Linked DNA regions of Homo sapiens: region 2 is linked to region 1. Evidence: fine-mapped expression QTL. A gene starts in region 1. The other region holds a variant in brackets. All regions are shown on one strand. Distances are from middle to middle.

Region 1 (2,910 bases):
TGATCTAAGGCAGTAACAGAAATTTAGTGCTACATTATACGGTACAATGAGGACATTTAACGTTCAACTAAAGGGCACTCAATGACAAACCCTGATGTAGCTCTGGAAGCAATTACATGTAGCTTTCATCGTAGATTTGTTTGAAAAATATGTCTTTACTGGAGACAGTACATCCACATTCTGTACCCAATTAACATTATTCCAAAATAACTCTTGACCTCGAGAGTATTCCAAAACAGTTACAAGACTTAAAAAAAATCATACAACTAGGGGTATCTAAGACCTGGCTTTGGGGCTCTGCCTACAACGAAGCTGTGTCACCCTGGGTAGGTCATTTGACCCAACATGCCCAGTATCTCCTACTACGTAAAGAAGAAATTGGTCTAAATTTTCTTTAAGGTCTCTTCTAACTCTAACATTCTATGAATGTATGAAATTTCAATCTTTCCCCATTTCAAAGGTAATGGCGGCAGTCAATAACGCCAAGTTAGCCTAGATTTTTTTTTCCTTTTTAGAAAAATGACCCAACTTGGGATGTTTTCTTGGGTTGAAGTTTTATTTAGGAAAATAAACCCCAAATAAAAACGATGTTGAGAAAATGGGCGGGGGGGGAGAAAAGAAAATCATACACTGACGTTAGCTAAAATAGAAACTTCCATCACCCTTAAGCCAGTTTGTCAATAGTTATTCAACGCCTGCTACTCTAATCACTGGCTTCCTAAAATAGAAATATTTATAGTTGTTTCCTTCTCATCCCCGGAGATACATTCCGAATAAAAAGCACAGCGTCTAAAATCAATTTACAACTTCAGAATAAGTTGCAAGGAGCGAAAACAAACTCCGCACAGCTCGCCAAGTCATTTGCATTTAAGTATGATTAGGGCTAAGAAACGGTTCTTATGAGATGCGAAAAAAAAGCACAAGAGGCAGGTGACATCTGGAAAGGGAAGCTGAACTGCCAGGAAGCGATATAAGCTGAGGATCTTAAGGCAACAGGTCCAGGGCCGGCACCGCAGCCTATCCCGGGAGGGGTCGGTGGCTGCTACCTCGCCCGCCGCCCTCCCCAGCCCCAACGACGTCGCCTCGCTCCCGCCCCCCCAAATCCCACGCCCCTGCGGCAGAAATCTCCCTAATCACTCGCCTCCCTGGGCTTCCCGCCCCCGGCAGGCCCTCCGATTCCTCGGCGCCGAGGCCGGCCCGGCCCTGCCGCCCCCTCCCCTCCACGCCGAAGACCCCGCAGCCCCGTCCCCGCCGCGGGCCCGCTCACCTGCACCTGTTTGCGGAAGTGGCGCGGCCCCAGCACTGCCGGCGATCAGGAGGACCAGCAGCAGCAGCAGCAGCCTCCGCCGCAACGCCGGCGGCCCCGGCATCTCGCCCACGGCGCGGCTCCGGGGCCGGCCCTCGAGTCGCCTTCCGTCCGTCCGTCCGTTCGCCCGTCAGTCGATCCTGCCTCCCTCCGCTGCCTCAGTGGCACCCGCGCCGGTTGCTCCCGAGCACACGTTGCTTCTGCCAAACCTCGGTCCGGCTCCCGGTCCGCACCTGCCGCTCCAGTCGCAGAAACACCATCCTTCCCGCCCGCCTGCGCCGCCGCCGCCGCCTCTCAACAGCAGCAACGCCAGCAGCCCTGCGGAGCGGCGGGCCTGGGAAGCCGCGCTCCCGCCGCCATGATGGGCTGCGTCATGTGACGTAGCGCGGGGGCGGGATGTCGTGATGGACAGGGCGGCCAGCCACTCGTCAGTCCACACCGGCCCAGGAGGCCCCGCCCATCATCCTGAAGGAGTGAGCGGTGGCGGCCGGTGCGCCCCCTGCAGACGGAGGAGTGCGTGGGCAGCAGGTAACACCAACAATTATTTTAAATTGAAAAATACAGGAAAATGTAAAGAAGACCATGACAATCATCCTGATATTTTTTTCTCGGTGTTTTATAACATGCAAAAATAGGCCTGTCTTGTCTTCTGCCTTTTTTTTTTTTTTACTTGTCAGAGCTGTTTTAGGCTCTTCTCCTTAAGTTGACCTACACATCCTCTCAGCCATCAAACAGCTTTGGGCTTTTCACTTGAATTGATCAAGAGAATGCCTCTCTCGGCATCACCCACTGACTCACCTCCTGAGCTCAAGCTGTTGCCTCTTGTCCACCTGGCAGACACTCTTCCTTTCATCTGTCGAGACTCACCTGACATATGACTTCATCTATGACTCTCTAGGAGAAATGACTGTCATCTCCTTAGTGCCCCGCCCTGGCCCTGTGTGGACTGCTATCCTAGCTGCAGTATCCTATTGACCCGTGACTGTAAGCTCCCTGAGGACAGCAACTGTGTCTGATTCAGCTGGTGGGAAATCCCTGGTGCAGGACCTGGGTCGGAGCAGGTGTTCTCTAAAGCAATGGTGCATGGCCCTGGTCCCAGGTACCAGGGCAGAGCAGCTCCCAGGGGTGGCCTTCTCCCCACCAAGAGGTGAGGTGAGAACACAGTCCTGCAGAGAGGATAGAGAAAGCACTCTCCAGACACAAGTAATATAGTGGTCAGAGGCATGGGGGTTGGGAAAATGCTAAGCTTTTCTGGAGAGGCGCTATGGTTCAGTGTGTGCATGAGAGGAGCTGATTTCAATCTTATCAGATGAGACTTTGCCACCTGGCAACAGTGTAACCTCCCCAATTCTCCAAACTCCCCAAATGTCCATCCTAAATGCCAGCTGTCGATGATGTTAACACAGCACTGGACACACAGATGATGCCCAGGGAATATTTGTTGGATGATTGAGGCAAGCCAATAAATATCTAAGGAGACAAATACCTGGAACGAGAAACATTGAATTTAAAAGTCCATGGCTTGGCTGGGCACGGTGGCTCACACCTGTAATCTCAGCACTTTGGGAGGCCAAGGTGGGTGAATCACTTCAGACCAGGAGTTC
Region 2 (2,910 bases), 41 kb after region 1:
CAGCATGTTGGGAAGCTGAGACAAGAGGATCACTTGAGCCCAGGAGTTCGAGAGCAGCCTGGGCAACATAGCAAGACCCCATCTCTACAAAAAATCCAAAATATTCACCAGGTGTGGTAGTGCACACCTGTGGTCTCAGCTACTTGGGAAGCTGAGGTGGGAGGATCACTTGAGCCTAGGAGTTGAGGCTGCTGTGAGCCGTGATTGGGCCACTGTACTCCAACCTGGGCAACAGAGTGAGACCCCCCGTCTCCAAAAAAAAAAAAAAAAAACAAAAAAGAAAGAGAGGCCAGGCATGGTGGCTCATGCCTGTAATCACAGCACTTTGGGAGGCTGAGGCAGGCAGATCACAAGGTCAGGAGATCGAGACCATCCTGGCTAACACGGTGAAACCCCATCTCTACTAAAAATACCAAAAATTAGCCGGGCGTGGTGGTGGGCGCCTGTAGTCCCAGCTACTCGGGAGGCTGAGGCAGGAGAATGGCATGAACCTGGGAGGCGGAGCTTGCAGTGAGCCGAGATTGCACCCACTGCACTCCAGCCTAGGCGACAGATTGGGACTCCATCTCAAAACAAAACAAAAGAAGAGACCACAGATCATGGAGTGGTTCTGACCAGTCTACAGATGCTGTACACTGAGCGCCTTCGTGTCCTCTGCTTCACCTTTTGATGTGTAGGGCTTCATTGTGACACATTTAAATGTTAAGTCTCTGCCCAAAGTGAACACAGGATGCATATAACATGCTGTTTGCTGATGAGGCATATGTATGTTCTCTCTTCATGAATATTCATAGCTCCTCCCATAACCTGTTCAATATGTATAGTCACCTGTTGAATATGTATAGTTGAATATTTATAGTTCCGTATAAATTCCTGTCTCCTTCTTTCCTCCCTCCACGTACCTGCTTCTGGCTTCTCCCTGAGGCTACGCTTCCCAGCCTGTGGGATGGCATCCTGTAGGCTGCAACCCTTTGTAAGAAATAAAGCTCTCCTTTCCAAATTTGTGAACCTCATAATTCTTCAGTTGACATTTTGTGTAATTTTTTTCATCATTTTCTCAATTTTGGGAGGGGGACTGATTGTATACAAGGCTAGGCAAAAAGAAGAACCACACGGAAAGCATTATGAAAAATGCTCTGTTGCTGAGAATGGCTCCCTTGGTTCTGTCCTCGCTCTACACCAACATCTTCCAGGTTACACATCCTTCCAAAGGGCAACAAGGCTCTAATGTGCTACCAAATGTACTTGGACCATCACTGGCACGCTTTTCTTAAAATGTTTTTAGACCGGGCAAGGTGGCTCATGCCTGTAATCCCAGTGCTTTGGAAGGCTGAGGTGGGAGGATTGCTTGAGCTCTGGAGTTCAAGATCAGCCTGGGCAACATAACAAGATCCTGTCTCTATAAGCATTTTTAAAAATTAGCCAGCTGTGGTGGTGCTTACCTGTAGTCCCAGCTACTCAGGAGGCTGAGGCAGGAGGATCACATGAGCCTAGGAGTTCCGGGGTGCAATGAGCCATAGCTTACCACACCACTGCACTCCAGCCTGGGTGACAGAGTGAGACCCTACCTCTAAAAATTAAAAAATTTAATTTAATTAAAATTTAATTCAAATTTAATTTAATTCAAATTTAATTCAAATTTAATTTAAATTTAATTAAATTAAAATTTAATTTAA[A/T]TTTAATTAAATTAAAATTTAATTAAAAATTAAAAAAATAAAAAAATTAATAAAATATTTTTAATTTCAGGGATGCCGATATTAAATATAAATGTTATAAATAGCACTCAAAAATGCTTCATTGAGGCCAAGCACGGTGACTCATGCCTGTAATCCCAGCACTTTGGGAGGCCAAGGCGGGCGGATCACTTGAGGCCAGGAGTTTGAGACCAGCCTGGCTAACGTGATGAAACCCCCTCTCTACTAAAAATACAAAAAAGTTAGCCAGGCATGGTAGCAGGCACCTGTAATCCCAGCTACTCAGGAGGCTGAGGCAGGAGAATCACTTGAACCCGGGAGGCAGAGGTTGCAGTGAACCAAGATCTCGCCATTGCCCTCCAGCCTGGGCAACAGAGCAAGACTCTGTCTCAAAACAAAACAAAACAAAAAACAAGAGCTGGATTTTTCTCCAACATCTCATCGCAGAGCCTTTGCATTTGCTGTTGCCTCTGCCCGAACACCCTTCCCCGCATGCTGACATCTGCGTGCCTGGCTTCTTCATTTTATTTGGGTATTTACTCAAATGTCACCTGCTCGGTGAAGCCTTCTCTGACCACCCTCTACTTGTAGCCTTTTTCCCACACTCTATATTTACCTCTCCCCACCATTTCATTTTTTATTGCACTTCTTTTTTTTTTTTTTTTTTTTTTTTTGAGACAGTCTCCCTCTGTCACCCAGGCTGGAGTTCAGTGGCACAATCACGGCTCACTGCAACCTCCGCCTCCCAAGTTCAAGCAATTCTCCTGCCTCAGCCTCCCGAGTAGCTGGGATTACAGGCATGTACCACCACGCCCGGCTAATTTTTGTATTTTTAGTAGAGACAAGGTTTCACCATGTTAGCCAGACTGGTCTCGAACTCCTGACCTCAAATGATCCACCCTCCTTGGCCTCTCAAAGTGCTGGGATTACAGGGATGAGCCACCATGCCCAGCCTCTCTGTTGCACTTCTTAACCCCTGACTTTGATCATTCTTGGTTTTGGTCTGTCTCCCTTCATTAGAACATAAGTTCTGGAGGCATAGGGGATTTTTCCTATGTTGATTATCTTGAAACTCAAGAGCCTGGAACAGTGCCTGGCACATAGTAGGCACACAATAAATAATTTTCAACTGCCACTGGCCTTTTTTCTGAGATGGGGGGTCTTGTTCTATTGCCCAGGCTGGTATGCAGTGGCACAATCATGGCTCACTGCAGCC

Evidence for each region.
Region 2: its variant is fine-mapped to the expression of LMTK2 in nasal epithelium (TOPMed, PIP above 0.99).

The regions. Positions count from the first base shown.
Region 1 is chr7:98,105,638-98,108,547 of GRCh38, reverse strand. It overlaps LMTK2 (lemur tyrosine kinase 2), which reads right to left and starts at 1,686. Exons shown (of 14, transcript NM_014916.4): 1 at 1,268-1,686. The coding sequence starts at 1,370.
Region 2 is chr7:98,064,313-98,067,222 of GRCh38, reverse strand. No RefSeq gene overlaps it. Among named protein-coding and RNA genes, the nearest start is that of LMTK2, 41 kb to the left of the region's middle. The variant A/T (reference allele first, on the strand shown) is at 1,677.